Homo sapiens: one gene and its partners. The protein of the gene in region 1 interacts with the protein of each later gene in a pairwise test. Each region holds a gene or a part of one and is shown in the gene's direction. Other genes may lie near its edges.

The links.
Region 2: the proteins of RNF10 (region 1) and DYSF interact in a two-hybrid assay, tested with the Homo sapiens proteins (one large-scale study listed by BioGRID and IntAct).
Region 3: the proteins of RNF10 (region 1) and TRIM26 interact in a two-hybrid assay, tested with the Homo sapiens proteins (one large-scale study listed by BioGRID and IntAct).
Region 4: the proteins of RNF10 (region 1) and UBE2Q2 interact in a two-hybrid assay, tested with the Homo sapiens proteins (one large-scale study listed by IntAct).
Region 5: the proteins of RNF10 (region 1) and UBE2J2 interact in a two-hybrid assay, tested with the Homo sapiens proteins (one large-scale study listed by BioGRID).
Region 6: the proteins of RNF10 (region 1) and UBTD1 interact in a two-hybrid assay, tested with the Homo sapiens proteins (one study listed by BioGRID).
Region 7: the proteins of RNF10 (region 1) and RSPH1 interact in a two-hybrid assay, tested with the Homo sapiens proteins (one large-scale study listed by BioGRID and IntAct).

What each region holds. Positions count from the first base shown.
Region 1 is NC_000012.12:120,554,449-120,558,708, forward strand, and holds part of RNF10 (E3 ubiquitin-protein ligase RNF10), read left to right. Parts: intron 1-269; coding exon 270-360; intron 361-2,833; coding exon 2,834-3,018; intron 3,019-3,097; coding exon 3,098-3,234; intron 3,235-4,260. UniProt on the Homo sapiens protein: E3 ubiquitin-protein ligase that catalyzes monoubiquitination of 40S ribosomal proteins RPS2/us5 and RPS3/us3 in response to ribosome stalling.
Region 2 is NC_000002.12:71,464,901-71,469,766, forward strand, and holds the start of DYSF (dysferlin), read left to right. Parts: upstream 1-1,798; 5' UTR 1,799-1,942; coding exon 1,943-2,033; intron 2,034-4,866. UniProt on the Homo sapiens protein: Key calcium ion sensor involved in the Ca(2+)-triggered synaptic vesicle-plasma membrane fusion.
Region 3 is NC_000006.12:30,206,556-30,210,815, reverse strand, and holds part of TRIM26 (tripartite motif-containing protein 26), read left to right. Parts: intron 1-4,260.
Region 4 is NC_000015.10:75,842,045-75,847,006, forward strand, and holds the start of UBE2Q2 (ubiquitin-conjugating enzyme E2 Q2), read left to right. Parts: upstream 1-1,402; 5' UTR 1,403-1,622; coding exon 1,623-1,802; intron 1,803-1,999; exon of another isoform or gene 2,000-2,309; coding exon of another isoform or gene 2,310-2,441; intron 2,442-4,962.
Region 5 is NC_000001.11:1,267,094-1,271,353, reverse strand, and holds part of UBE2J2 (ubiquitin-conjugating enzyme E2 J2), read left to right. Parts: intron 1-3,361; coding exon 3,362-3,492; exon of another isoform or gene 3,493-3,584; coding exon of another isoform or gene 3,585-3,621; intron 3,622-4,260. UniProt on the Homo sapiens protein: Catalyzes the covalent attachment of ubiquitin to other proteins. Seems to function in the selective degradation of misfolded membrane proteins from the endoplasmic reticulum (ERAD).
Region 6 is NC_000010.11:97,501,671-97,505,930, forward strand, and holds part of UBTD1 (ubiquitin domain-containing protein 1), read left to right. Parts: intron 1-4,260. UniProt on the Homo sapiens protein: May be involved in the regulation of cellular senescence through a positive feedback loop with TP53. Is a TP53 downstream target gene that increases the stability of TP53 protein by promoting the ubiquitination and degradation of MDM2.
Region 7 is NC_000021.9:42,482,725-42,486,984, reverse strand, and holds part of RSPH1 (radial spoke head 1 homolog), read left to right. Parts: intron 1-523; coding exon 524-614; intron 615-1,180; coding exon 1,181-1,316; intron 1,317-4,260.

The sequences.
Region 1 (4,260 bases):
ATTTTAGTTCAAGGGATGCCTTTGGGGAATTTGGCTGGACTTGAAGCAGAAGAAAACAGTTCATGGATTTAGACTTCTGCCTGCTGAGTCTTTGGGTTCTTTCCAGAGCTGGAGCTCAGAACTGAGGCTGAGGTCCTAGTGCAGTGCCTCATGAACCAGGGCTGCTAATGGCCTGCATTTGATTTCTAAGTGAATAGATGACAATTTCTGCTGAGGGTTTATTGGTAGATCCTGACAGTCTAGCTTTTTCCTGTCTTTCCTATTTCTAGCTGCCAATTTGTGGTGTCTGAAGACCAAGACTACACAGCTCATTTTGCTGATCCTGATACATTAGTTAACTGGGACTTTGTGGAACAAGTGGTGAGTAGCTCAGCCAAGCCCATAAGCTATGAATGGGAGCACTAAATAAAGGCACTGTGGTGACGCAGCAGCTGTTGGCTGTGTGCACTGCTTGATACCCTTTTCTGCCTGGCCTTTCTATAGATGTTTCCCAGAGGTCAGTTCCTGGTTCTTCCTGGAGTCCATTTTGTGACTAATTGGCTCTGGCCTGTAGGGATGGTGTATGAAAGGCTCTGATCTGAAGATGTGTAAGCTGGGAAGTAGTAACCCCTTACCCTCCTGATCTGGGTTGGGCTCATTACAGGGCCATTGCTTCATTGGCAGCCATTCGTAGCAATCACTATCAAAGTAGGCCTCAGCCTTGTGGCAGGGAGGCACATGAATGAGCCACACAGTTGTACTTTTCTTTTTTGAGAAAGAGTCTCACTCTGTTGCCCAGGCTGGAGTACAGTGGTGTGATCTTGGCTCACTGCAACCTCTGCCTCCAGGGTTCAAGCAATTCTCATGCCTCAGCCTCCTGAGTAGCTGGGATTACAGGCACCCGCCACCACGCCTGGCTAATTTTTGTATTTTTAGTAGAGACGGGGTTTCACCTTGTTGGCCAGGCTGTTTTTGAACTCCTGACTGCAAGTGATCCACCCACCTTGGCCTCCCAAAGTGTTGGGGTTACAGGCGTGAGCCACTCTATCTGGCCCAGTTGTACTTTTTTTTTTTTTTGAGACGGAGTTTCGCTCTTGTTGCCCAGGCTGGAGTACAGTGGTGCAATCTTGGCTCACTGCAACCTCTGCCTGCCAGGTTCAAGCGATTCTCCTGCCTCAGCCTCCCGAGTAACTGGGACTACAGGCACGCACCACCACTCCCAGCTAATTTTTTTTTGTATTTTTTTTTAGTAGAGATGGGGTTTCTCCATGTTGGTCAGGCTGGTCTTGAATTCCTGACCTCAGGTGATCCTCCCGACTTGGCCTCCCAAAGTGGTGGGATTACAGGCATGAGCCATCGTACCTGGCCTCTTTTTTTTTTTGAGACAGTCTTGCTCTGTCGCCCCAGCTGGAGTGCAGTGGCGCGATGTTGGCTCACTGTAACCTCCACCTCTTGGGTTCAAGCAATTCTCATGCCTCAGCCTCCTGAGTAGCTGGGATTACAGGCGTGCACCACTATGCCTGGCTAATTTTTGTATTTTCATTAGAGACGGGGTTCCACCGTGTTGTCCAGGCTTGTCTCAAACTCCCAGCTTCAAGTGATCAACCTGTCTCGGCCTCCCAAAGTGTTGGGATTACAGGCGTGAGCCACCACGCCCAGCTTCAGTTGCACTTTCAAAGCCACTGATGTGTTTTCTACTGAAGTTATAAACTCTAGGTATCCCCTTGTTGGTCCTAGTAGGGTATCTGTTGAAGAATAATAATTTCAAAATGATGGGCACTTTTTCTTTATGAGCAGGGGCTTTTGACCTTAAAGCTTGAACTCTCGCCGGGCGCGGTGGCTCACGCCTATAATCCCAGCACTTTGGGAGGCTGAGGCGGGCGGATCACGGGGTCAGGAGATCGAGACCATCCTGGCTAACACGGTGAAACCCCGTCTCTACTAAAAAAAAAAATTAGCCCGGCGCAGTGGCGGGTACCTGTAGTCACAGCTACTTGGGAGGCTGAGGCAGGAGAATGGCGTGAACCCGGGAGATGGAGCTTGCAGTGAGCCGAGATGGCGCCACTGCACTCCAGCCTGGGTGACAGAGTGAGACTCCGTCTCAAAAAAAAAAAAAAAAAAAAAAAAAAAGCTTGAACTCTCACTACTGTGAAAATGTATAAAATCATCTGAGAATGACATAGCATAAAAACTTAAGTTTTATTAAAAAAAAATGAAGTCTTTTTAATGCGTTCTTTGTTGGAAGTTACTGGTAGATTACTTCTAGACCCTTTTTAGGCCTTTATGCATACATATTAAGTTTTTTTATAAATGGGAATATAGTGATTTGTCACTTTTTTCTATTTAATGTAGAACCCCCAACATACCTGTTGTGTATTAGTTTTATTATATTTAACGGTTATTATGGTTTCCTTGATGCTTTGCTTAAAGAGCTATCATACAAAGCCAGGCGCGGTGGCTCACGCCGGTAATTCCAGGACTTTGGGAGGCCGAGGCGGGCGGATCACAAGGTCAGGAGATCAAGACCATCCTGGCTAACACAGTGAAACCCCGTCTCTACTAAAAAATTAGCTGAGCGTGGTGGCAGGCGCCTGTAGTCCCAGCTACTCCAGAGGCTGAGGCAGGAGAATGGCGTGAACCAAGGAGATGGACCGTCTCAAAAAAAAAAAAAAAAGAAAAAAATGATCATACATGTACCTACGTTGTAAACAATTTTAGAAAGATATGTTGAGTATAAGGATGTACGGGGATAGAGATGAGAGAGATGCGGATGAGAGAGTAGAGAGGCCTAAAACTTTGACAGTCCCTAATCAGTTCTTCAAGCAGTGAACCTTCTGGTGGCATTTTGTTTCAGCGCATTTGTAGCCATGAAGTGCCATCTTGCCCAATATGCCTCTATCCACCTACTGCAGCCAAGATAACCCGTTGTGGACACATCTTCTGCTGGGCATGCATCCTGCACTATCTTTCACTGAGTGAGAAGACGTGGAGTAAATGTCCCATCTGTTACAGTTCTGTGCATAAGAAGGATCTCAAGAGGTGAGATTGAGACATTTACTCAGTTAGATCCCAATCTCTTCACTCCTTGCCCTGCTACATATGAGTGTCCATGTTTCAGTGTTGTTGCCACAGAGTCACATCAGTATGTTGTTGGTGATACCATTACGATGCAGCTGATGAAGAGGGAGAAAGGGGTGTTGGTGGCTTTGCCCAAATCCAAATGGATGAATGTAGACCATCCCATTCATCTAGGAGGTGAGTTCTTTAAATTTTGGGGACAAATAATCCTGGGTACATTCTTTAAGGTGATTGAATATATCTAAGCATCAGAAAGTGAAGCCTTTGGGCAGGGCACATCTGGCATGTTCATATTAGTCATAGGATTCCAGTAGGTTAGGGTGGGGTTTGTAGAGAGTAGATTAATTATTGGTTTCAAGTTTGTTTAATCTATACATCCTAATTTTTCATTTTACAAGGTTTTATTACATAGTGTCTTTCACTGTGCCCAATCTTAGAGGTTCTGTGGTCAGCCAGTCTTGGTGCCTGTCGTCAAGAAACTCAGTAGTCCGATAGAAGAGACAGACTGGTAGACTGGCCATTAGGATAAAGAGTGTGATAAGTGCTCACAATGAATGCCAGAGATGTATTCCCTGTGTTTCATGCAGAAATGAGCATTTGATTAAAATAGCATTTCAGTCTCTGGGGAAAAGATAGATTTCTCAATAAATGGTATTGAAACAATTGATTCTCCCTAAGGAAAAAATAAAATTAGATTCCTATTTCATACCATTCATGAAATTAATTCCAGATAGATTGAAGAAGTAAATGTAAAAAATCCAAAAGTTTTAACCTTTTTATTTAAAAGAAAATATAGGACAATTTCTTTATAAATCCTCAGATGTGCATCTGTCTGAAGGATTGTGTGTTCTCATTTGGGTGGTAAATGTGTGTGTGTAATATTTTTTTCCTAGTGATTTTGACTGTTTAAATGTTTAGCAACTTAAAACATTAAAAATGTGTATTAATTAAAAAAAAATCCTCAGATATGGGTGGATTTTTGAACCAGGCTGAAATGATAGATGCTGTAAAAGACTGATAAATTTTATTTTTATTTTATTTATAGATATATAATATAATATGTATATATATATTTTTTTTTGAGACAGAGTCTGGCTCTGTCACCCAGGCTGGAGTGCAGTGGCATGATCTTGGCTCACTGCAACCTCTGCCTCCCGGGTTTGAGCGATTCTCGTGCCTCAGCCTCCCGAGTAGCTGGGACTA
Region 2 (4,866 bases), on another chromosome or scaffold:
GTGGGATTTTGGACATATTTTGAAGGAGAGTGGGAGGGGGATTTGCAGTTTTGGTGACCTGGTGGGGTTGAAGGTGTCACTGGGTGGGTTCAAGAGAGAATGGAGGAGGGAGATTGGAGACAGAAAGTATGGAGAGCTCCTTCAAAGGGCATTGTTGTGAAAAGGGAGAAATGACCAGTAGCTGAAGGGGATGTGGGGTCAACGGTGTGCTTTCTTGAGAGCAATAACATCATGCTTGTGTGCCGATGGGATGATCCGGTAAACAGGGGAACTTGGTAAGGCAAGAGAGTGAGAGAATCACTGCAGGCTCACCACTGAATGGGCGAGAGGGGATGGGGTCTATGCCCAAGTGTCCAGTTGTTACCAGTGGGGAGTACGGGTGATTCATTTGTAGGAACAGGAGAGAACTCACAGGATTTGGGCACAGATGCCGAGGGCGGGCGTTAGAAGGAGACTGGGGACCTGAAGAAGTTCTCTGCTCCGTAAAGAGGAAGCAAACTGAGAGTGAGGTTGGGCGATGGGGTGTCCTAGGGGCATCCGGGAGACAGGGAGACAAGACATATAGTATGATTGCCCCCAGCAGTGAGGGCTCGCTTGAGTTAAGGGTCATGACTACAAAAGGCACCACTCAGGCCGGCTGTGTTACTCTCCAACACAGCACTGGTTGGGGGCAGGTGTGGAGGAGGCGGAGTTGGATTCGCCAGGGTTATGGCTTAGCCCTGTGAGAATGCTGTATCCCTCAAAATAAGAGAGGGGAAAGGGAGTTGAGATTTTGCGCAGCAGTGCGTTTAGGCTGAGTGAGCAGGTTGGTTAGTGAGGACTTGGGCGGTGGGAAGACGGACAGTGCCCTGACAGGGGCTAGGTGCTGGAGTGCTGGGGGATAGAAGTGCGAAGCCAGGGCCCCTGTGTCAAGAAGTTCATACGCTGGAAAGGAACCAGACATAATAAGCGAAACGACTGTCACCGTTCATGGCTTACACCTTGAACAGCTTTCCACTGTGGAGACTAGGGAGTGTAGAGATTGTTGGGGATGGGGGACTTGCAGGGGACAGAATGGGCCGCAGCTGGACCCTAGTTCTCCAGGGAACGCAGTATGATTTGAATACAGATCTCTGCCTCCAGAGATGAGTGACTCGACACCGCTGCGGAGAAGGCTCCGAGGAGGGTTGGTGGGGACTCGAACCTCGGAGTCTCTCCCGACCCGGGGGTCCCAGCAAACCAGAACGGCCACCTAGACAGCCTGCGGACGGGAGAGGACCGGCTCCCTGGCGCAGATCATGGGGCAGGTGGAGAGAGGCGAGAGGCAATGAGGCGGGGGGCTCGGGGTGCACGGCACGCTCCGCACACTCCCCCTTCAGCGCTCACTCAGACTTGGTTTCCCCGAAGACACACTCTCGTCCCCGCCGCTGATTGCCCACTCCTTCCGCCTGCACTCCTGCCTCCTTCTCACCCTTTCGTCGAGCGCACAGGGCGGCTGCCAAGTCGGCACCGGTGCGCACCGGGCCCGGGATCCCTGGCTGGTGTGGAGCCTTGGTCACCGGAGGCCCCCGCGGAGCAGGCCCCACGGCGCCTTGTGCGCTCTCGGAGGCCGAGCTGCGCGCCCGCGTCAGCGGCGCCTCGTTCCTGGCCGGGAGCTGGGACCCGCGGAGCTAGGGACCAGCACCCCCACAGGCGCCCGTCTGACCCCTGTCCCTCCCCGCCCGCCGCGGGCAGGGCGGATCTGGGTAGGGGCCGGAGGGGGAGGGTCCGCCCAGCGGGTGTCCGGTGTCCTCCCTGCAGCCTCTCCCAGGCATTGGTCACTTCTCCGCGGAGGAGCAGCGAAGGCGACAGCTCTCTTGGCGCGGCTGCCTGGGAGCCGGGCGCTTGCTGGGTGGGTGCTCGGGCCCGGTGCTCCCGCTCCCGCCCTGACTGCGCGCCTGTGTGCCGCCGGGGCTGCCCAGCCATGCTGTGCTGCCTGCTGGTGAGGGCCAGCAACCTCCCCAGTGCGAAGAAGGACCGGCGCAGCGACCCTGTCGCAAGCCTGACTTTCCGAGGTGAGAGCCCCGTGGCTGCCGCGCCCATGCTCGGGTGCTACCCGACTCTCGGCGCTCACTGGCGGGTCTGAAGCCCCTGCTCCGGAGCTAACCCTAGTCCAGGCCACAGTTTCTCCCTTTGTCAGCAGGGACGGAAATCCCAGCCCCGACTTCTGCAGGGGGGCGATGAGGAATAAGCAGAGCACAATAAATGCCACAGGGCTTTGAAAAATTGGAAAAGCGAAAGTGCCGTAGGTCAGCGGTTATCACTTTTCTAAGACTGACACCCAGAGGAAATAAAGTCCGAGCTTTTACTGGGTAGTGGGGATAAGGGTAAGTTGGAAGATGGGTGCAGAAGGTAGAGAGGAATCAGGGCCTCTGAAAAACGGGGCGTGTAGATGATGTGCTTTGAAAGTTGTGTCTTTTTTCATTCATTCATTCATTCATTCACCCATCTTTATCCAACATTGGCTGTATTGAATCTGCCCCGTCTTAATCAGTAGGAAAAGGAACAGAATAGGATGGAAATGGCCTTGACACAAGGAGTTTTGAGGAATGTCAAGGATATTTTCTCTAAATTCAAGAAGCTAAGTCCCTACATGTAGTGCTTAGAATACATACAGGTATTTCTGTGTGGGGCAGCAGAGAAATCACACACACACTCCTCTTCTCACCAGGCGTCCTGAACCCCCTCCCCCAACCCCTCCAAGGCAGATTCCCACTGGAGCGGGTGTCTCAGGAGGGGAAAGGGAAGAGGAAGGATCTGTCAAAATTAAGAGAAGGAACAATAGCTGTGAGTCAGGACCCCAGTTCTGCAGAGAAAGATAAATCAGGAGAGGAAAGAGGGTTTCCACTTAGCCAGGAGCCATACCCTGTAGCTTTGTGGAATCGATAATAATAATAATAAAAATCTACGTATCAGAAAAGATAGTCAAATGAAGAAGGAAGAGTAGCTGGTGTTTTCATAAGCCTCCTTCAGTGCAGGCACCAAGGGAACTCTTTTCAGTCTGACCCATGATCTGAATCATATCTCCAAGCACCCCCAAGATAATGATAGATGAAAGACATGATTTGGCAAAGGGAGATTTATGTGTAGCTTTTATTCTTTGCTGTGGGACAAGTTATATGTATTCCTCTTTTGAAAGATGTGATTTGAAACGTTTAAGAAAATTTCACTATTTTCATTGATTGGTGACATGCCTGGGAGTTCACTATGCAAGAGCAACTTCAAGACAAAGTCTTTCCTTCTCCAGTGTCCACCTGATGCTGCCTAAGGCTTTGCTATGCAGAAATTGCGGTGTCACCATTGGCTGGAAAAGAAATTCCCTAAGGACACTGGGCAGGGCACACATTAGCATAGGGCTCTGGATGCTCTAACACTCGTTTGGGTCTGCTCACAGCTCTTTCCCTTGTCCTGTAACAGTCCTGTGGTGGCTACCAATGTCTCCATTCTGCAAATAAGGAAATTGAAACCCAGGGAAGTTAAATGTGTTCAGGTCAGTGGTCATGGCAGGGAGCTACCAGCGCTTGGAGTGGGTATTGCCCTTGAGTCGGGAAGATGACCAAATCCCTTGAGGCCCCTCTTTACTATTGCCCTCGCCCAAGTACCCCGAACACGTGCAGCTGCTATCTCCCCCCAGATCTCTGTATTCCTTCTTTGTAATGCCTTACTATTTATTTGCACTGATGATCTCCTCGGAAAACAGAAATACCATACAATAGAATGTAACATCTCCAACCGTTTCAAGTCTATTTGTATTTCAAAGCCCAGGGCAATGCCACCTTCTCCAGGAGGACACCCTGGATCCCCCTGGCTCTCAAGAGTCTCTCCTCTCTGGATGACAAGCAGCAGCACCTTGCTAGGGATGCTAGCACCCTCGCCCTGACTGGCCTGTGCTCAGCTCCATGCTTAGGTGCCTTGAGAGCAGTGACCTGTCCTATTTGTTCATTGGTTTGTCCCAGTGCTGAGCACAAGTAGGTGCTCTCTAGTGTTTGTGCGCTTTCTGGCCCAGCCTCTAGCCATCCTCCAGGTGTGCCTGGGAGCTTCATTTAGTCTGGGACATGGTCCGCTCACTTGATTGTTCCTGAGAATCACTTGTAGAACGTGTTTGAGAAACAGATTCCAGAGTCCCCATCTGTAGAGGTTCCGATGCAGCAGGTCTGGAAGGTGACCTAAGAATCAGCACTTAACAAATACCCGATGCAGGTTATTTTGGAACCGCATCTTGGGAAAAATGGGTCTGAGATGTGATGGCAGGTGAAATTAATGCGCTCCCCATTGCGGGAGCATTCACTGGGGAGTTTGGGGCTGAGTTGATGCCTAAGGAGGGAAACCGTTAGAACCAGGTTCAGAACTTACAGAGCATGTAGGCTGGGGGGACTCAACTCTGGCTGCAGGTCAACATTGTGTGTGGGAGCTTCACCAAAGACCACTGCCAACCTCCCTGCCTGCCTTTTCTGAAGCCAGATCCCTTCCGGTGGGGCCCCAGGCATAGGTGTTGTTTCTGTCAAATTTCCAGGTGTTTTGAATGTGCAGTCAGGGTTGAGAACCACTGAGCCCAGCTCCTCATGGCACAGATGGGACAGTGGCCTGCTTGCAGAGAAGCCAGCCTGCACTGTGTGTTTGGCTCCTACAGGCAGCCTGAAATGTATGGGGCTGGGCTGGCCCCACTTTCCTTGCAGTTGTTCCCTGTCTCGGATGTAATTTCAGGACCTGCCTCCCAAAATAGACTATGAGCTCTGGGAGGCTGGACTCTGAGGGCAATTTTTTGGCTTCCCTGTCTAAGCACCTCTATTAATAGTAGAGGCTACTAATGAATACTTCTCATTCTTTTGTTTTTCTATTAATTAATTC
Region 3 (4,260 bases), on another chromosome or scaffold:
CCTTCATCACAAGAAGGGTAAGTACAGTACAAGATAGTTTGAGAGAGAGAGAGACCACATGCATATAACTTTTATTACGGTATATTGTTATTCTGTTGTGTTATTATTGTTAATCTATTTCTGTGCCTACTTTATAAACTTTATTACAAGTGTGTATGTGTAGGAGAAACAGGTTTCAGACATCCACTGGGGGTTTTGGAATGCATCTCCTGAGGATTGAGGGGACTCCTGTATGAATGTATCTTTAGCGGATGGGGGGTGCTACTGTATGAAGCACTGTGATAGTGCTATTGTAGAAATACAGTGTATGCAAAGCTGCAGGAGGAGGGATACATTCAACTCAGAGGTGGGATGGGTACAGGAAACACCTCACAGATAAGGGGACAAATTGTATTCAAGCCTTCAAGGATGCGCTGGACTGGAGAGAAGAGCATGTACAAGGGAATGGGTGGAGAGTGGGGAGTGAAGAAGGGGCTGTCTTCCTGGTTCAGTGTATCTAATGGCCAGAGAATTAGGTAGGACGAGGAGGGATTTGGGGCTGGATGGGTAAGTTGGGGCTAGCCGGATGCAGGGCAGGGGAGGATGTCTGTGCAGTTTTTTTTTTTTGTTTTGAGTCAGAGTCTCGCTCTGTCACCCAGGCTGGAGTGCAGTGGCGTGATCTCAGCTCACTGCAACCTCCGCCTCCTGGGTTCAAGCGATTCTCCTGCCTCAGCCTCCCGAGTAGCTAGGACTACAGGCGCGTGCCACCATGCCCGGCTAATTTTTGTATTTTTAGTAGAGGCTGGGTTTCACCATGTTGGCCAGGATGGTCTCGATCTCTTGACCTCATGATCTGCCCACCTCGGCCTCCCAAAGTGCTGGGATTACAGGCGTGAGGCACCGTGCCCGGCCACCTGTGCAGTTTTGACCTCAGCTAGTAGGAGTTTTTTTGGTGTGTTTGTTTTTATTTTTATTTTTATTTTTATTTATTTATTTTATTTTAGAGACAGTCTCTCCCTATGTTGGCCAGGCTAGTCTTGAACCCCTGGATTCAAGGGATCCTCCTGCCTCAGCCTCCCACAGTGCTAGGATTATAGGCATGAGGCACCAAACCCAGCCTCAGCTAGGAGATTTGAAGCAGGAGAATAACAAGGATGAGATCCTGTGTGCTAGAAGGATGATCCTGGCAGCACTTTTTAGGAAATATGCCACATCTCACCAAATCTAAGATGCTATTTGTCTTAATCCATTTTCTGTTGCTGTAACAGAATACCACAGACTGGGTAAATTGTAAACAACAGATGTTTATTCAGCTCACGGTTCTGGCCAATGGACTCTTGCAAGAAAGGCATTAATCCATTCATGAGAGTTACACCCTCATGACCCAGTCACGTCTTAAAGACCCCACCTCTTAATACCGTTACATTGGCAATTACGTTTCCAACACGTGAACTTTTGGGGGACATGTTCAAACCACAGCACCACCAAATCTTTTATGTGCCCTTATTTTATGCTCCACATCAAAAAAATATTTTGCCAGTTAAATTATGACATGCAATTGATCACATTTCAGAGATGCTAAAATGTGATGTCACAGGTGTCTCAAATTTGATGAAAAGCACTAACTCCCTTGCTGATGGCTTAGATTCCTCCCTTTCCCTGGATTAATGGTTAGGATGTCTCCATCTCACTAACTCATAGATGGTAAGTTACCAAGGGAAAGAAGAACAGAAGCTGGGTGGGCCCTTCCCCTTCTCTCCCCAAAGATAAACATTTACAACATTTACTGGTTGGGTCGAGGAGCACAATATCTGGTCTGCTGCTATAGGATTCCTTGGCCTGTTATTGGGCCTGTCTCATGCTGTTTCCTTTTGGGGAGTTAAATACACACACACACACACACACACACACACACACACACACACACACACATATTCTATATCCCATCCTCCAGAGTGGCAAAAATTAAAGCTGATATTATCAGGTGTTGGTGAGGCTGTGGGGCATCATGAGTGCTCATAGCCTGCTGAGCAGACTACATAGCACTATAGTCACTTTGGAAACAGTTTGGCCTGCTTAGTCAAATTGAGGGTACATCTTGCCTGTGTGTGCTAGAACATGTATGCAGAAATATTCACTGAAGCAGTGTTTGTAATTGTCCCAAACTGGAAACAACTCATATGGCTATCAGTAGACTGCATTAAAAATTGTATAGTTAGAGAGCAGCAATTAAGTAAAATCAGCTCATAATCACATGGATGAGCCTCACAAACATGTTGACAGCCCCCCACCCAAATACATGGAAAAAAAAAAAAAAAAAAGGAAAAAAATTCCATTCATTTGAGGCTCAAAACCTGAGAAAATAAACTCTGTTTATGGGGTGTATACCTAGGTCTAAAACTAAAGAAAAGGGAAGGAGTGATTCTCACTATTACAATTTACTCCACAACAACCATTTTCTCAGACACAGCTTTTTCTTCTCCTGGTTTCTGTAAGTTGCTGGAGCGAAACCTTGGATACGATGATTTGCTGGTGACGTGCAGCCCACTGTTCTTGCTGCTACAGGGAATATGAAGAAATTGCTTCTCTCTCTACCAATTTACTACCATCTTGCTGGAGAGAAAGGGCAGGTGGCTAAGATTGTTCGCATTCCTTCAGCAGATGTGTAGGAAGCATCTTCTTTGTGTCAGATACTCTGTGCTTGTGCTTTGTTTTCTCAGTCAGTTTTTATTGTCTACTCTGTGCCAAGTAATATGTAGATTCTGGTGATAAGACAGACACAATCTCTCTCCTTGTTTCATGGAAAAAGCTGGTGTTAAGCGAGTAATTACACTAATAAGTCAGGACTTAAAACTGCAGAGAAGTACAGGGTGCAGCATGGGGTGTTTTGGGGCTGTATAACTAGACTACATGTGGACCCAATCTGACAGGTCAGGAAAGAATTGCCAGAGGAGGTGGCTTTCAGCTGAGACTTCAAGCTAGAAAAGGCATTTGCTAAGTGGGAAAGGGATGGTGTTCTAGGCAGAAGGAATTACATTGTCGAAGGGCTTAGCCAGGAAAGAGCATAGCACTTTGAGGCATGGAGAGCGGTTTGGTTTGGCTGTGAGTTTGAGGTGGGGAGTGGCAGGAAATGAGCCTGGAGACACAGGCTGGGCCATGATTATCTGGGAATCCAGCTAGGATCTCCTGGGACAGCCTCCTCACAGAAGAAAGGAAGGACAGGAGTTTTGACTTTATTCCTGGAGCACCAGAAAGCCATTGAGGGGTTTAACCTGGTTGGTCACCCGGGCAGATTGGCAGTTTAACACGTGACCGAGTGTGTTTGAGGATCAAAAGGCCAGAGTGGCTGCAGCACTGGGGCAGCAAAGGGGAGAGGAGGTTTATGTAAATCAGGAAACCCTTGAGGGTTTGATGATCCCACAGTTGGATCTGATTTCAGCTTCTAAAGGATTCCTCAGGTCACTGGATGTAAGTTCTGGTAGGACAGGGAGTTTGCCACTTTTGTTCTCTGCTGTAACCTCGGTGCCTGACACATAGTCGGCACCTAATAAACATCTGCTAGCTGTTGAATAACTTTCAACATCCTGCTGCTTAAACCCTCAATGGCTTCCCAGGGCTGTTAGGATAAAGTCCAAAATTCTTAACCTGGGTCACAGTCTTGCATAATCTGTTCCCTCCTGTTTCTCCACCCTTCCTCTGCTCGCCTCACTGCACTCCACCTGTGGCCAATTGTCAGCTCCTCAAATTCACCGCTACCCTTTCTCCGGCGGATGATTTCCTCTGCCTGTGAGGCTAACCCTCCACAGCACTCCATATGGGCAGGGAAGAGTTCATTTTCCAGGCACCAAAGTGCAGTGTATGGTGGAATGGAAGGAGCCCAGAGCTGGGAGGTGCACCTCACCCCACCTCGTGCTAGTGCTGGCCTTGCTGCCAGCCAGCTCTGCTGCTGGGCAAATGAGTCCGAGGCTCTGGCACTCACTGTCCTCCTCTGTAAATAAGGGGTTCTAGTGATTCACAGTCCTGGATAGACTTTAGAATCTCCTGGGAAGTTTGTTTTTTAATACCAGAGCCTGGGCCACCTCTGGAGATCCTAAGTCAGTTGGTCTAGGTATGTTTTGAAGACTCACCAGTTTGAAGACTACAAATCTGATGTGTAGTCAAGGTTTGAACCATTCCACAAGATGATAAAGGATTCCTTCCTATATTTGGTGCAAAGCACCAAGTGACACTTAGGAATATTTTAGACAAGAGAGCTTGGTTCATGATTCAACATTAGACAGA
Region 4 (4,962 bases), on another chromosome or scaffold:
CTCTTGTAGATTAGGAAGAAAGAGACAGGTGTCAGGGTTGGGTAACTCTAGGTAAGACTGGAAAAGGAAAATGCGGAGCCCCTTTCTGAAAAATTACGAATTTCAAAATGGCGACACCAGAATATTAAACCAAGCTCGAAGCCCTTCTAAGCTGGGAGCACTGTGCAACTACATAGGTTGGACGCATATGCAGCTGGTCCTGCCTCTTGCACTTACGATTGCACACACTATTGTCTGCCAAATTGGGATGTATTCCTTTGGACTGCTATCCAGACCTTTATTCATTTTTTGAGCACCTACAATGTGCCAGGAATTGTGCTAGTGGTGGGGATTCCAGATAAGAGCGAGCATTCAATTCAATCATATCGGGTTTCTACTATATAACAGGTCTTGTTCTAGGTCCTGGGGATACAGCTCTGAACACATTAACACGGGGCAGAGACAAGGAATAAATGGGTTAAAGATCAGATAGTGACAGGTGCCCAACAAAAACTTAGCACAGGACGATGTGACACAGGGTGACTATTTGAAATGGGTTGTGGTGGGGGGTGCCGGAGATGATATTTGAGCTATGAGTTTAGTGAAAATAGTGGGCAGCCCTAGCTCCATGGGGGTGTGGGTGGGGAGGGTTATCTTAAGCTTGGGAAACAAGGCAAAATAAGGAAAGGGGGGAGAGAGAGACTATATACGGCAGAGTGAACACAGGTGGTAGCTAAGGGAAGGGATGAAATCATGGGACACCTCCAGGCAACAGCCTCCAGGGGCTAAACCATCGTCTTGGGTAAATGGATGGTTTGAGAGCAAAGGCGGGAGCAGCGAGTCCGGTGAGAAGGTCCTCACAGGAACCCAGGCTGGTGAGAAGGTCCTCACAGGAACCCAGGCTAGCGAAGCGGTGGCTCGGACTAGGGTGAAAGTAGCGGAGGTAACGCTGGGTGAGCCGCACCCGCGTCTCCCACGAGGTCCCCCCAGTGAGGTTAGCGGGTGCCGCGCCGAGCGCCAAGCTGAGGAGCCGCCCCCAGGGGCTGGCGCTAGTCTGCAGCGGCGCCGACGTGGCCGGCGCGATCCGCCACGCACGTGTCCGGCTCCAGGCCGGGGGCGGGGGCGCGCGGGGGTCTCCGGCTCCTCCCCGACTTCTGGGGCCCGGGCGCCAGCTGGCCCCGAGCCTCCAGTCCGCGGGTGCGAAGAACGGAGCAGATGGGTCGGGAACAAGGGAGCTGGGTCAAGGCGAGGAGGGGGCGGCCGGGCGCGCGCGCTCTGGCCTCGTGCACGCGCTGAAACCGGAGCGCGCAGGGCGCGCCAGGGTGAGGGGGACGGGGGCGGGGTGGGGGCAGCCCTTTCCCAGGCGGTAGCGGGGGCGGCGTCGCTGTTGCCCTTTTAAGCCGCGGGGCCGCCGCCTCCTGCCGCTGGAGTCGGTTACAAAGGAAGCGCCACCCAGGCCGCCACACGCCGAGGCTTCCGCGCCCCTCGCCATTTTCCAGCAGCGCTCGACGAGGCGGAGCCGCGAGAGCGCGGCCCAGGCCGGCCCCGCGGGGCGGTCGCGGCCGTGACGGCGGCTCCGGGCCCGGCTCCCCTTCCGCGCCCGGCTCCCCTTCCGCGCCCCTCCCGCCGGAGATGAGGGGAAGATGTCCGTGTCAGGGCTCAAGGCCGAGCTGAAGTTCCTGGCGTCCATCTTCGACAAGAACCACGAGCGATTCCGCATCGTCAGTTGGAAGCTGGACGAGCTGCACTGCCAGTTCCTGGTGCCGCAGCAGGGCAGCCCGCACTCGCTGCCGCCGCCACTCACGCTCCACTGCAACATCACGGTGAGGCGCCCGGCCGCGGCCCCGCGGGGCAGGGCGAGGACGGAGAGGGGGCGCTTCGAGTCCCGGGACAAAGGGGAGCCTGCCCCGGAGAGGCTCCGGCTCCCCGGGCGGGGCAGGCCCGCCCCTTTCCCCCGCGACTTGCCCATCCCAGGCCGGGCTGGGACTGCGCGAGGCTTGGGTGGGAGGAGGCGGAGGGCGCGTCTTTCCGGCTTCTCGCCAGGGGCTGGCTTGGGGGCTTCTGGCCCATCTCGGTCCCCGTCTCCTAGCCCCGAGGGGGGAGTCCGCGGCGGCCCAAGCCCTTGTGGGGTCCATGGCCGCCCTCAGCCGGCCTGCTCCCGGGACCGGGGCGGGGCGGGGCGGGGCGGCGCAGCTCCGGCTGTTGTTTGAGCCCAGGCCGGCAAGGGGAACGGCCCTTAAGTTTTAACGCCTCATTTTTCAGTCGGATTTTCCTTCTTCCCGCTTGTTCAGCCAATTGTTTTTAAGTTTGCGTTTAAGGAGAAACTGACAATGAGAATGGACTCGTTGACGGAGGAAAAGTTGGAATGCAGACTCTGGTGCTGTTTGAGCGACCCCTCTCCCCCGGGCCTGGCTGCGCGCTGCTGTGTTCTGGAAAGGAGCATAGTACCGTCGTTGCGGCAGGTGGTGTTGAGTGTGTATTCGTGTGGCCCCTCCCTTGTGTGTAAGCCTCGAAAATGGATAGGTGAAAGGAGATACGCGCCAGGGCTGCTCCCCGGAAAGATCACGTATGTCACAAAGCCGAAAAGACACTTTTAAAAACTCACTCATTAAGCGGAAATCTCATTAGAAACCCAAGGCTTGGTAAAGGAATTGAAGTATTAAGTTTCTCCATAAAAGTGTATCGTGAAGCTATTCGTCGTGAAATTGATGTAGGATATTGGTCCAAACTGCAGAATATTCTCTTGGTTATAATAGGCGTCAAGGTGGTGGCTTCGGGCTCCTTTTCAAACATGGCTAAAACCAAGTCTTGTTTTTAACTCCCTTTGGTTGAGTCAGTGGGTACTCAAGTGCCTGCAGGGTGGCTGGCGTTTGCAAAAACCTTGATGTTATAATTGACCTTAAAATGGTTACCAGACTATCTGGGCAGAAGGTGTGTTAATTTCAAAAAAAAAAAGACAAGTGCTGTACTGAGGAGATAATTCATTTATTGAATGAATACGTCTGAGTGTTCTGGGCACTAGTGTTGCAGAATTGAGTGAAGTCGTCCTCGCTCTCAGAACTCAGTCTTCTTGGGGGAAGAGTTCAATAAGGTGACAGCTCCTGTGGTATCATCAGGAAAGCCAAAGCAACTAATTTTGACTTGGGGGAGGTGCGCTTCAGGGAAGGCTTTGATGAGAGGCTGAGACAGTTAGAGATGAGCTTCCACAGGTGACTACAATTTTGGAAGGCTGGCGGAAGGGCATTTTAGACTGAGGAAACTCCACCCAAAGAAGACACGGAGATTTGAGAAAGTGTGGTTTCCTTAGAAGTAGAAAATTTATGCTAAGACTTGAGAAGCCCACGATACAGGCTGGAGAAGGGGAGGATTTTCCAAGAGTGGAAAACAGAAAGTGTAGTAGTTGTCATGAAGCAGGTGTTTTAAGGAGACGGGCCTGAATGGCTTCGAGGGTGATTACTCTGGTAGAAGTTGGGGCATGGCCACGAAAAGGTAGGGCTGGTTTGAATGATAGGAGACTGAATTTGTAGGCTGTGGGGAGCTACTAAGTTTACTCAGGTAAGTTGGGAGAATGTATCTTTCATCCAGGATTAGAAATGGTTCTCTACAGTGGGTGGCATTAGGAAATGTGGTTATCCCAGTGGGGGTGGGGTGGTCTTATTGCTGTGCCGGCATTTAGTGCTAGGAGTACAGGGATACCAAATGTTTTGCAACGTTCAGGCAGTCTGCCACAGCAAAGAATTATCCCACCTAAAGTGCCACTGGTGCCCCATCGAGAACCATATTGAAGGCTGGTAAGAGTCTGCTGCAGATAAAAATAAGGAGTGATGACCTGGATTAGGCAGTGGCAACAGAAATGGAGCAAGAAGTGAATGAGACACTTTCAGTACAAGGAGGATTTAGTGAGGACTAGTGTAATGGCACCCACCGCTAGGTAGAAACTATTAAAATTGACTTGCTAGTGAAATATGACAGACTATCAGGAGATAATTATCATGGCAGCTGCTCAGTACAAATGTCTGCTAACTTTTTATTATGGAAAATCATCAAATGTACAAAAGTTGAACAGTGTAATGTAGCCAGCCTCAACAATGATAAACTTTTGGCTAATCTTCATCTGTACTCCACTTTAGATTATTTTGAAGCAGATTCCAGACAGATCACTTCATCTGTAAATATTTCTGCTTGTATCTTTTGAAGGTAAAAGACTCTTTTATTTTTTATTATTATTTTTTGAGACGGAGTCTCGCTGTGTCGTCCCAGCTGGAGTGCAGTGGTGTGACCTGGGCCCACTGCAACCTCCGCCTCCCAGGTTCAAGCAATTCTGCTGCCACCGCCTCCCGAGTAGCTGGGATTACAGGTTTCCGCCGCCACACCCGGCTAATTTTTGTGTTTTTAGTAGAGACGGGGTTTCACCATGTTGGCCAGGCTGGTCTTGAACTCCACCTCAAGCTCCCAAAGTGCTGGGATTACAGGAGTGAGCCACCGTTCCTGGCCGTAAAGACTCTTTTAAACATGGATGACTGTTTTGATAAAATGACATGGCTTGTTCATGTCGATACCATTTGCTTAGAAGGGAAAGATCAAGGGAAAAATGGGGTTGGATTTCAAATGATTTGGTTTGATCGATGATTTGTTATTCTCTAAAGTTGTAACTCTGGAAAAGGTAATGAGTTTGACTTATTCTTTAACTTTTCCTCTTTAGACAGTTCAAATATTTGAATTCTACATGCTAGGACTTGTTTTCTTTATACTTACCAAGAAACATCCTTATGCAGTTTCTCTAATGTTTGAGAAACTAAGTTGTTTTTTACACACGTGCATGCTAGTTCCTGAAGAGTCCTGTACAGGTGCTCTGCTGGCTTTTCCTTTCAGGTTTCTGTATCAGCTGTATTTCTCCCTGTAGAATGTGCCCCTGACCTCCACCCCTTAACCTTACCCCATTTGTCTTTATATGCCTGACCATCCGTCAAGGCTCTTCTGGGT
Region 5 (4,260 bases), on another chromosome or scaffold:
AGAGTGTTAGCTTCAGGGTGAGTGTCGAAAGGACAGCCTGTGTGGCGGTGCTGCTTGGGGTCATCACTGTGGCCATCACCAGGTGTTGGCCTGAGGGGAGATCCCTGGCCCATTGGCTTCTTTAGCCAGGAGCTGGGGATGCCACTGTGTGGAAGCACTTCCTTCCCAGGCAGGACTGTAACCCCATCCCTGGTGGGGGCCCTCCTGGGGAGGCACTCCTTAGGCAGAGGAACCCGCTGGGGCCCAGAAGGGCCCTGCGTTGTGTGTGGGGTCACATGGAGGCCAGTGATGTGTGACAGAGTGGGAGGCATTTGGCAGGGAAATCAGGGAGGCCTCTGAAGGCGGTGGCTCTGGCTATGCCGGGAAGGGCCTGGGGAGTTTCCAGTACAGGCTAGGCTGGGAAGCAGCTGTGAGAAGGAGTGTGTCGGTCAGGACTTTGGAGTGGGACCTGGGCCGTGCTGGGTCTTGGGAGTTGGGAACGAGGAGGGCTGGCTGGGGCTGCTCTGTCTTGGGAGCTGGGAATGAGGAGGGCTGGCTGGGGCTGCCTCTGTCAAGGGGCTGGCAGGCAAGAGGACGTGTTGATGTTTATTTGCTTGGCTGTGGAGTATCCTGAAGGGTGGATGGGGGAGTGGGTGATCGGAACAGTATGTTGACTTATGGGTACAGGAGGGCCTTGAAATGGGAAGAGACTAGAAGCTCAGACCTTCTGGACCCACGGGGGGAGTTGGGAGGCTCCTGTGGTGTTGATGGGAGAAGTGATGACATTTTGCGTTAGAGAAGATAATGAGAGTGGGAAGGCTGTGGTGAACAAGGATTGCAAGAGTCAGGGACCCCAGAACAAGAAGCAGGGTTGGGGGTGGTGCTGAGGCCACACATTTGGGAGCACGCGTTGGGTGCCCTGGCTGAGCTCTGCACTCCAGGCCCTGGGTGTGTGGGGTGAGCAGCCAAGCCCTGGCCATTGACATCCTCAGGTTGGGAGCAGACACTAAACAGGCTGCTGGTGGTGGTTCTCTGAGGAGGAATAAACCGGTTAGAGAGGCCAAGTCTGTAGATCTCTTGCAGGTGGAGACTGAAAGGAGGTGGAATGTGTGGCTGTCTACAGGTGTATGAGTTGGTTCTCATGCTGCTATAAAGATGTACCCGAGACTCAGTAATTTATAAAGAAAAGGGGTTTAATGGACTCACAGTTCCGTGTGGCCAGGGAGGCCTCAGGAAACTTACAATCATGGCGGAAGGGGAAGAGGCATGTCTCACATGGCAGCAGGCTAGAGAGAGCGGGCAAGAGCAGGGAACACTGCCTTATAAACCATCAGATCTCCTGAGAACTCGCTTTCACTGGAACGGCTTGGGGAAACTGCTCCCATGATCCAGTCACCTCCCACAAGGTCCCTCCCTCAACATGGGGGATTATGGGGATTACAAGTCAATATAAGATTTGGGTGGGGACATAGCCAAAGCATATCAGCAAGGAAACTGGGTAGAGTAGACTTCCGGTTTGTGGGAACTGGGAGGTCAGGATGGAGATCACTGGTCACTGTCCGTTATCGATGGCCACTGATGTCCACAGACGTTATTAAATCGTGTGGCCATGGCTGGGCGCGGGGACTCACGCCTGTAATCCCAGCACTTTGGGAGGCCGAGGTGGGCAGATTACCTGAGGTCAGGAGTTCGAGACCAGCCTGACCAACATGGTGAAACCCCGTCTCTACTAAAAATACAAAAAAAATTTGCTTGGCATGGTGGCAGGCACCTGTAATCCCAGCTACTTGAGTGGCTGAGGCAGGAGAATCACTTGAACCCAGGAGGCAGAGGTTGCAGTGAGCGGAGATCACACCACTGCACTCCAACCTGGGCAACGAACAGTGAGATTCTATCTCAAAAAAAAAAAAAAAATAAGGTTTGAGTTGGAGCTAGTCTGATGCAGCAGGGAGCCCTGTTTTCATCACCACCCCTCTCCCCAGTCTCAGGTGTGGCTGAGGGGCCTTGGGGTCCCTGATCCAGCCTCCTCTCTTGCATGATGATCACCACCCCTCTCCCCAGTCTCGGGTGTGGCTGAGGGGCTTTGGGGTCCCTGATCCAGCCTCCTCTCTTGCATGATGATCACCACCCCTCTCCCCAGTCTCGGGTGTGGCTGAGGGGCCTTGGGGTCCCTGATCCAGCCTCCTCTCTTGCATGATGATCACCACCCCTCTCCCCAGTCTCGGGTGTGGCTGAGGGGCCTTGGGGTCCCTGATCCAGCCTCCTCTCTTGCATGGTGCCTCGCGCCCCATGCTCGGCCTTCAGTGCTGTCTTGAACGTCCCAATGGAGCCACCAGAGTGACTTTCCTAACAGAAGATATGATCTGCCTTGAGGCTTGGACCCCAAACCCCTGTGGGGCCCGGGTTACCGTGGCTCCTGCCTGTGATTCCAGCACTTCCGGAGGCTGAGGCCTGAGAATCAGTTGAGGCCAGGAGTTTGAGACCACCTTGGGCAACATAGTGAGATCCCAGCTCTACAAAAAAAAAAAAATTAGCTAGGCGTGGTGGCATGCGTCTGTAGTCTCAGCTACTCAGGAGGCTGAGGTGGGAGGATTGCTTGAGCCGAGGTGGTCAAGGCCACAGTGACTCCAGCCTGGGCGACAGAGCAAGACCCTGTCTCACGAAAAATAAGTAAATAAACTCTTATGCCCTGGCCCTGCCTCCCTGGCCAGTCTTATCCCTGCCCTCACTGTGCTTGGGCCCTTGCACACTGCACTTTCTCAGGTGTGGCCTGTTCACCTGTGGCCCCTTCTACCAGGAAGACAGCTGCTCTGCCCAGTGAGTGCCTTGGAGTCTCCAGAGTCCTCGTCCCTCCAGCCGCAGAGGCTCCCCCGTTCTGCGGCTCGTTTTGCTTGTGGCTAGTGGTAAATGCTGGGCAGCGGGCTTCCGGGTGCGGTGAAGGGGCCGGCGGTGGTGCCTGCCCACTTCTATGGTGTGGATTCTCCATCAGTGCGGGGTCCTTGAGCTGAGTTGGAAGGTGCGAGTAGCTGCCCTCAGGAGCTGGTCTGAGGCTGTGGCCCGAATACCCCCTCAAGCCCTGTAAATGTATCCCTGCGTGAGTTTTTGGAGGACAGGAACGAGGCTTTGGGTTTCTCCTCGTCTTTGTACCTGAGCTGTACGTCGTGTCAATGAAGGTGGTGGCGGGACAGACGGGAAGAGAGAAGCCGCAGGGCCTCTGGGTGTCTGGGCGGGTGGCAAGCGAGGGTGACCTGTGAGCTGTGACTCTGGGTGACCGGGCCCTGAATGAATGGCGGGCTGCAGAGGCGGGAGTGGGGCTGCGCCAGGGGAGAGAGCTGTGGCCGGCGCTGCTTCTCGTCGTCAGTGTAGACGTTGCTTTTAACAGATGAGCAGCACCAGCAGTAAGAGGGCTCCGACCACGGCAACCCAGAGGCTGAAGCAGGACTACCTTCGCATTAAGAAAGACCCGGTGCCTTACATCTGTGCCGAGCCCCTCCCTTCGAATATTCTCGAGTGGTAAGGCTCCGCGCCACTGATCGCCCTGCGCTGACTGTCGCTGCCACGCAGGCCTCTGCCGGCCCCTGCTGGGCGAGCCTGGTGCCCCAGTCATGGCATTGGCAAGGTGCTCCTGCACCCTCCCCCGGGGTGAGTGGGGTGCCCAGGGGCCTGTGGACACTCTCTGGTCTTTTCCCAATGGACGCATGCCGGGGACATCACAGAGCCATGCTTGACTCAGGCTGGGGCTGGAGAGAATCTCCGGTGTGGGGCCCTTGAGGGGGGCGGGGTCCAGGTTGACTCAGGTTGGGGCTGGAGAGAGTCTCTGGTGTGGGGTCCTTAGGGGAGGGGTCCAGGTATGCAGGGTTCACAGCTGTTGCTGGTGTGCACTCTAGGCACTTAGAGGAGAAACTGCCTTTCTAGACTCTGCTCTTTGCTTCTGGATATGGGAATTAGCCTGTTTTGGCTTGGAGTATTTGACAGGACTAGGGTCCGACACTCCTGTCCCTGGCACTGGCTTGGGCCAGGTGCCCCGACCCTCAGGCTGACAACGAGAGGACCTGTGCCTCATAAGCATTCACCTCATGGTGACTCTCCCCCTTGCTGAAGTATAGAGTGTGAGAGTGCATACTGCTCTGTCGAAACACTGCCATTACAGGTCTGCTAGTAATTTGGTAAGAAATAAAGTGTGAGAGGCCGGGCATGGTGGCTCACACCTGTAATCCCAGCACTTTGGGAGGCTCAGGCGGGCGGATCACCTGAGGTCAGGAGTTCGAGACCAGCCTGGTC
Region 6 (4,260 bases), on another chromosome or scaffold:
TCAAGGCTGTTCAAGTGTGGGCCAGTCCTTTCTTTTAAGTCCTGATTTCTTTCCCTTCTCTGACATTAAGACCACCAGTGTTTGCTCGTGCCATTTCCTTCTTATCGAGAGTCTTTCATCCTTTGGGTTCATTTCAAGTGCCGTGCCTTGTTTGAAGCACCTTGCCTGACAAGTCTGCCATTTCCCCCTCCCTCCGCACCCCACCACACACACCCCGTGGAAGTGATTGCTCCTTCTGAGAACTCCTGCAGACACATTATCTATGCCACTTACTTAACAATTATGTACTCTGTATTATTAATCATGTCTTTGATGTTTACAGTCTTTTATCAGCAACTACATTGCAAGCCTTGAAGACCTGGGTTCTGTCTTATCCTTGTAGTATATGTCTCTCTCACGCACACACACACATTCAGCACTTAACACAATGAGTTGTACAGAAGTAGCACTCAGTATTTGTTGATTTTAGAAAGCAAACTCAACTTCATCCTACCATCTGCATTTTTCATATATCTGCATTTTTTTTTTTACCTGCTAGTTTATCATTGCTTTAGTTCTGTGGGTCCTACTATGAATAGCTTTATTCATAAAGTCCAAAGCCGAGGGGAACTCTGTAGGATGACAAATTTGGTACAAGGGAAGGAATCCTTCTTAACTCCACAGTGCACCTGGCATTCCTGTAACATCTGTGGCTTTTCCTTTGACAAGGACATAGTTTTACGTTGTAAGACTAATGCCTAAAACTCCCCCAGCGCCACTGTAACTCTTACCTTCCTTTGGCACTAATGTAATGGGAAGAAAGCCTCAACAGGGAGCTAGGACCTGAGTTCTAGTCCTGGGCCTATAACTCAGTGACCCTGGGCAAGTCATCTAACCTTTCTGGGTCACACTTTCAATATTTCAGAAAGGGGGAGGGTTATACAAGATCATTAGAGCTGTTTTATCATCTTCACAAAGGCAGCTGTTTAAAGCGAGAAAGTTATTGAGGTGAAATCTTTATGGCTTGTAATGTCACCCTTTGTCCTTAGTTCTGCCTTCTTAGTCACTTGGTAGACAAAGCAGAGACACAATACTGTCTGGTCAGGGATTCTTGCATTAGGGAGAAGGGAGAGGTCCTCTCGTCTCATCAAGTTTTGTGATTGTCACTCATATGTGTGTGTGTGCGTATGTGTGTATACATATATACGTATATATACGTATATATGTATATATATACGTATATATATGTGTGTATATATGTATATATATATTTTTTTTTTTTTGAGAGAGAGGGTCTTGTTCTCTCGCTCAGGCTGGAGTATGGTGGTGCAGTTATAGCTCCCTGCAGCCTTTAACTCCTGAGCTCAAGTGATCCTCTCCCCTCAGTCTTCCCAGTAGCTAGGGCTAGAGGTGTGCACCACCACGCCCAGCTAACTTTTTATTTTTTGTAGAGATGGGGTCTTGCTATGTTGCCCAGGCTGGTCTGAAACTCCTGGCCTCAAGTAATCTTCTTATCTTGGCTTCCGAAAGTGCTGGGATTACTGGCGTGAGCCGCCACACCCAGCCTTAAAAATTTTTTTTGGATTGTTACTCTTAATGCATCCCCAGTAGGTCTGTGTTCTTCTCCTTCAGATGCTGGGTGGTTCTTGTATGCTTCGGAGAATACTTGGGGATTTACTCCTTTGGTGGGGGCTCTTGCCACCCCATACATGTACACTAGGTAGATAAATATCTCTGCCCATGAACTGGGTGAAGCAGCCTCTCCCCCAGCCACTCCAGGGAGAGGTAGAGGTGGTAGAACAGGCAAGTCTCTTGCCCAGCTCCACCCTTTGAGAATGTGGCAGGGCTGAAACCCAAATATCTGACTCTGTGATGTGCCAGGCATATCCACTTACGTTCTGGAATCTCAAGCTCGGGGTGGACAGACCCAGGGCCCTGTTTGGGGCTGGTTGGGCTTGGCACTGTGGTTGCAAGAGAGTCTGCTTCTTGTGTGGGCTGTGTGGCTATTCTTGAGGGAGTAATTGGGCAACTTCTCCATTTGCTCAGTAAGTATGTACTGAGTGCCAAGCACCCTGCTGGCTGTGAACAGACGTGGTCCTTGGCCACATGGAGCTTACAGTCTTGTAGGGGGCAGACAGTAAACACATAGTCATGCAAATTACACATGATCATACATAGAATTATGTAGTATTATATATGCTGGTGACTCCTCCCACATTTATAATTTCAGCCCATTCTCTGCAACTTCAGCCTTGGATATTCTGCTGCCTGCTCACCACACCTGCTGTCTAAAAGGCTTCCTAGTTTAACGTGTCCAAAACAGAATGAACCCCCATCCCATCCCTGTACCTCCCAAAGTCTTTCCCATCCCAGTTCATGATGATTTCATCCTTCCGCTTGCCAAGGCCCCTAAAATTCTCGTCGTCCCTGACTTCTCCCTTTCTCTCACACTTCACATCCATTTAATCAATAAATCCTGTTGGTTTTGCCTTAAATATGTCCCGAACCTGACTCTGACCATCTCCACCACTTTCACCCTGGTCTGAGCTACCACTGGCCTGTGAACTCACCTTCCTGCTTCCTCCCTTGTCTCCCGACAGACTATTTCCATCCCACTAGCCAGCGTGATACTCTAAACTGTAAGTCAGATTTCATTACTCCTTTGCTCAAGCCTCCTGTGACACTGCATCTCATTCAAGACTTCTTGTGTTGGTCTACAAGATATGATATGATTTTCACCTGCTCACCTTTCTTAAGCCATCTCATGCTCTCCATCACCTTGTTCAACCCCCCGATATCTGAATGGGTCCCTCTCTCTCCTTGTCCCAGTCTCCTATTTAAGGAATCAAACCCTCCCAGGCCATTTCATTTAAAATTATCCCCTTCCCTCTATCACCTGCTCTCGGCATTATGTACCTCCCTTTCCTGTTTTATTTTGTTCCATTGCTTATGTCATCCTCTGATATTGGTTGTCTCCCCTTGCTCCATGTTGTCAGAGATTTTTATTTGTTCACTCTGTGATACCAAGAGCAGTGCCTGGTAAATAGTTGTTGGATAAAACTAGAGTTGGTGAAGTCTATAGAAAAGCATAAGTGAACACGTCTGATTGATCTCCTACCTTAGATGGGTGTTAAGGCAGGTATCTTAATGAAGGGACTTAAACTGCAACCTCAGAGTGGTGTTCTATCTCTGGGACTGGCTTCTCTCTTGCCCCAGGCTTGCGTAAGTTCTTAGATACCTGGGATATATATGACTCCTGTGGTTTGGGTGCCTCTTGCTGGGAGATACCAGGGCTGAAGCAGGAGGGCAAAGTGAAGCTCACTATTGGGGTCCTAACCAGGCAGTAGCACCTTCTTGCCATTTTATGTGTGCACCTATGTCAGAGTGGACCCCCCTCTTCCAGGCACACGTGATGTTTGTAGTCCTTAACTCGCAGGGCAGGGATAGGGTGGCCTAATAGACTACAAGGGAGGAAGTTAGGTGATGTGGATTCCAGGCATCTCTTACCCATCAACTTGCTGGAGAATTTTTAGAATCATAGAATTTTAGAGCTGAAAAGGAACCTAAAGATTTCTATAACCTCTTTTTTCTTACCCAGCCATTAGAAAGAGAACAAAGGTATGTCTGTCCCCTGCCTAGTTCACAGAAACATGGTGCAACCTACATAAAAACTGCATGTGCTCCTTTAAGTTGTGAGTGTGTGGAGGTCAAGATATTATAGGGAAGTGGTTGAGGTCAAGTGTATTCAAAGGAGAGGAGGTCTAGTCTCTGCCACTTTCTTGAGTGGTAATCTTGGGCAGGTCATTTGTTTCTTCCTCAGTTGATCCCCCGTTTTAAAAAGATAATATTTCCAGTTTCCTTCACAGAGATGTTATGGAGATAAAATAAGCTAATGGTGGTTTAAAAATTACTTTCATGGCTACACAGTGTGCTCAGATATGAGGTCCCAACACAGAGTTTCATCTGGCATTGGTGGAAAATGAAGCCTGGGGTCTCTGCTCCTTCCTAGTTGTTTGTGTGACTTTGGACAAGCCTCTTGATCTCTTTGAGCCTCAGTTTCCCCATTTGTGCCATGAGGTGACTGCCACCCTGATCACCTTTCAGAGAGGTTGTAAGATTAAAGTGAGACCCTGGATGAAAAGAGATTTTGTGATCTTAGAAAGTTTCTATTATTCCAAGCTACCAGGATTTTTACACACAAAAGCCATAGCCAGTGATTTTTCCCACTAGATCATTGAAGCTTACTCTTTTTTAAGGAGCAAAACTATAAAAGAAATGTTT
Region 7 (4,260 bases), on another chromosome or scaffold:
GTGGCTGAGGATAGATGGTCAAGCCCTGGAGTTGTTGCTGGATCTCTAAACATTTGCAAGGTAAATGAAGTGTGGTGTTAGGATCACTGGCAATGGGTCAGACAACCTTGGTTTGTCTCCCTCCTCGTTGCATCTTCGTGGTGCCTCTGACTAACCTGTGAAATGTGCTTGTCAGTACATGCAGGTGGCTGTGGCCCACATCCATACACCTCACTCTGTACCCCGTGAACTCCTGACTCAGCCCTCTCTTAGCCCACTGTCCACCGTGGCTCAGCACCTATGCCATCTGGCACAAAAGGAAGGGGTGGAGGGATGTCAGAGTGGAAACAGATAGCAGCCTTGGTCGGTGCTGTTAAAAATCTCTCTTCTGCAGGATTTCCTGAGCAGAAGGGGCCTGTGTGTGCATGGGCTTCATTTGCTTCACAACACATCTGCCTTTGCCATGGTTAACAATTTGAAGACATGGTACAGGGCATCGATCCCTTCTTCTCACCTGGGCTTGCCTTTGTGTTGTTCCTTTCAGGAGAGTGGGCAAATGACCTGCGGCACGGCCATGGCGTATACTACTACATCAATAATGACACCTACACTGGAGAGTGGTTTGCTCATCAAAGGTTCGGTTTCTATCTTGGGTCTTAACGGGATTTGCTTATGTAATGAGAACATGATGTCTGCAGATTGTTTACACTTACTGAGGAACAGAATCATAACAAAAGCCCAGTTACCAACTCTGCCAGGCAGGTCCAATCTTTCTATGGCTTTGAGGCAAGGATGCCTTTCTGTGCAAGTGTAGACTCAAGTATCTGACATCTGCACCTCAGTTGGGGCAGAGCACGTGAGTCTTTCACCCAAGAGTCCCAGGGAGTGGAGGGCACAGAAGAGCCACTGGGGGACCTGAGCCACAGCTCCCACTAGCTCTGCCTCTTCCCTGGGGAAAGCAGCTGACACACAGGAGGCTTGCCTCTGTCCAGCTGGCCTGTCCTCTGTGCCTCTGGCAATGTCCTGTGCTTGGGGCACACTGAGCAAGGGGCACCTTCTGACTGGACACAGATATAGAAGCTACATCGCTTGTGAGCCTGCAACAGCCTGGGCCTCCCTCAATGTCAATGTCTGTGTTTTAAACCTGGGAGATTTTTCACTGTGCTGGAACGAAATACCATGTTCCCCTTGTCTTAACCAGGCATGGGCAAGGCACCTATTTATACGCGGAGACGGGCAGTAAGTATGTTGGCACCTGGGTGAACGGACAGCAGGAGGGCACGGCCGAGCTCATTCACCTGAACCACAGGTACCAGGGCAAGTTCTTGAACAAAAATGTAAGTCCATGGGAAGTGACATTTGCCAATGAAGTACAAAATAACCCCCTCTGGCAGCCTGTGCAAATGTGTGACCAGAGAATACCAAAAACTCAGAGAAAACTGAGTCCGGCCTATTCAAATGTGGAGAACAGGACAGCTGTGCCATTCTCTGAGCCTCTGGTACCCACAGAGCACAGAATTGGGGGAAGGGAGGGATTGGCCCGTTTCTCTGGATCTCAGTACAAATTCCCACTGTCTTTCAGCGGGGACCTGTTGCATTGTTATATAACACGAGAGGGCATCTGAACCTCTTGTGTGTATTCCTTCTCATGGGTAAATCAGATACCAAATATCTATTTCCTGCAATTGAGCATAGAGGTGTTTGGGTTTTGTTTCCCTGGAAGGGGAGGTGCGACATCCCTGGGGAGGAAGACCCCCAGCTCCCTCCTCATGCTACAGGCCAGCCTGCGTGCTCCTAGTTGTGGTGGGAATTAAGGCTGCCAAGGGCCTGGCCCTGCGTCTGGAGGCTTGCCAGCTTCTAGCACCCATGGTGGGCCGTTTCTGTTTGGAAGACTCGGTGGTTCCTCTTGCCCTTATTGTACAGAGAAACCTTGAATAATTCAGAAGCTAATACTCAGGCCATCGTGGTAGCTTTGATCAGGGGTTGAGCAGAAACTTTCCCTGAAGAGAGAATTTGCGGAGCAAATTGATGGTGTTAGAAGTTGACAGAGGGAATGTTTAGCTGATACAACGAAGTCTCTTCAGACTCTCTTAGAACCCAGTTTTCATTTACGTATAATTCATGCCCTAACCACAGATTTTACTTTTAGTCTTCATCAAAACAGCACATTCCCCTCAAACCCATACATTGTTTATATAATTCCCAGCAAACTTTCTGTGGGTCTTTTTGGAGGAGATGGGAAGGTGGTTGCAGAGGAAGAGAATTTGATGAAAATGAATCTGGAAGAATCAATCAGCTTGTCCAGCCTAAACCAGTCTGAAAAATCGGGGTAAAAATGGAGGCTTTGTTTTGCTAGTTAGTAAAAAACTTTAAATTATACAAATAATACACAAGTACATTCCAATTGTAAAGCATTTAAACACTAGGATCCTGCCCCACCACCCTGGGCCCAATCCTTCCACACTATTTCTGTGTGTCATGTAAGCACATTCTAATACAGTCATCTGACACAGAATTATTGTTTGGGGGTTTTAATTACATAATTAGGATCATACTGTGTCAGGATACAAAAATATACATAAAGATACATATTTGTCATTTTGCACATTTGGGACTATTGTGTAGGTTAGATAATGGAATTGTGAAACCTTTGAGGATTGGCATTTAGAATCACAATCGGTAGTGCCCATTTTCCTAAAAAGTGGTGTCAGTTTATACTCTTGCCAATAGAATATGAGTCTGTTTATCATATATTCTCATCGATGTTGGATATTCTCAGTCTTTAATGTTGTTTTTGTTCTTTTCCAATCTTATGGGTAAAAAATGTCATCTCATTGTTTTAATGTGTACTTCCCTGATTACTAGTGAGGTCAAACATCTTGTCACATGTTTATTGCTGGTTTGTGTTTCTTCCTCAGAAAATTCCCTGTACATGTCCTTGTGGACAAGTTATCAATACCACAAAACTTCAATAATTAAAACAGTGTGATACCAGGATACACACACACACACACACCAATGAAGCAAATTAGGAAGTCCAGAGACAGTTCCCAGTATATAAAATAATTTCACACACAATAAGCGTGTCAAATTAACAAAGGGATGATGGGAGGAGTCAAGACATAGTGCTAGGAACACTTGACAATTATTTGGGAGGAAAATAATAGTTTTGCCTTCACACAGATGAAGATACTTTCTAGAAGAAGTAAAGATTTAAATGTACCCTAGGAAATATAGAAAAAAAATGTAGATGAATATTAACCTTGAAATGAGGAAAGAGAACTTTCTAAACAGAAATAGAAAGGAAAAACCAATAGGTTTAGCTTTATAAAAATAACTTCTTATAGATTAGAAAATGCTGTAAAGAAAATCTAAGAGATGACTGTTAAATGGGGAGAGAATATTTGCAACATTTAATATATAAAGTGTTTTATCAATCAATGTGATTTAAATGGCTAAAAATCTTGAAAAAAATGCAGGCTTACTAACAACTGAAATGAAGTGAATTAAAATTGTGAGACCCTGTTGTTTTATATAAAAAAACATGTAAAAATAGACCATTTTTACACTCCTAAAATCAAGAGTTTGAGGATCTGGGACTCTTAAGTGCAGTTATGGGAATGAAACGATTAGAGCCTCATCTAATCAAAGCACATGTATGCTTTTGTCCAGAAATTCTGAGAATTTAAGGATGGTATCAAAAGCGTACATAAAGTTTTAACTCAGAGTACGTTTGCTGGAGCGTTCTTTGTAAAAAAAAAAAAAAAATCAGTATCCCAAATACCAACAATAGTAACTGAGTAAAATAGGTTGCAATCCATAGATGAAATAAAGTACCAGGTGGCAACTGTTATTAGGAAAGAATATTTGTAAATACGGGAAGTAGTTCATGCCATATTTCTCAGTAAAAATAGAGTATGAGTTAGTATGTATAATTATGATCAGATTTTTATTTAACCATGTATACTAGAAGCAAAGTTACAAAGAATGCATCAAAATATTAGTAGTAGTTCCATCGGTAGCTAGTTTGCCTATGGATACTGATTCACTGAGGTTTTCTGAAAATGAATACATCACTTTTATAAAAAAGTAAAATGTGGTTAAAGTTTCCAAAAGTAAACAAAACAGGGCATATAAGTTCCAATCCCATCAGCCACGAGTTCACAAAAGCATTCCTTAATCCATGTTACACTTTACCCAATTTGGTGATTTGAGGTGGGTATTGTGGTGGTGACATTTGTATTTTGTATTTTCTGCTGGGTGTTGACACTTAAGAATGGT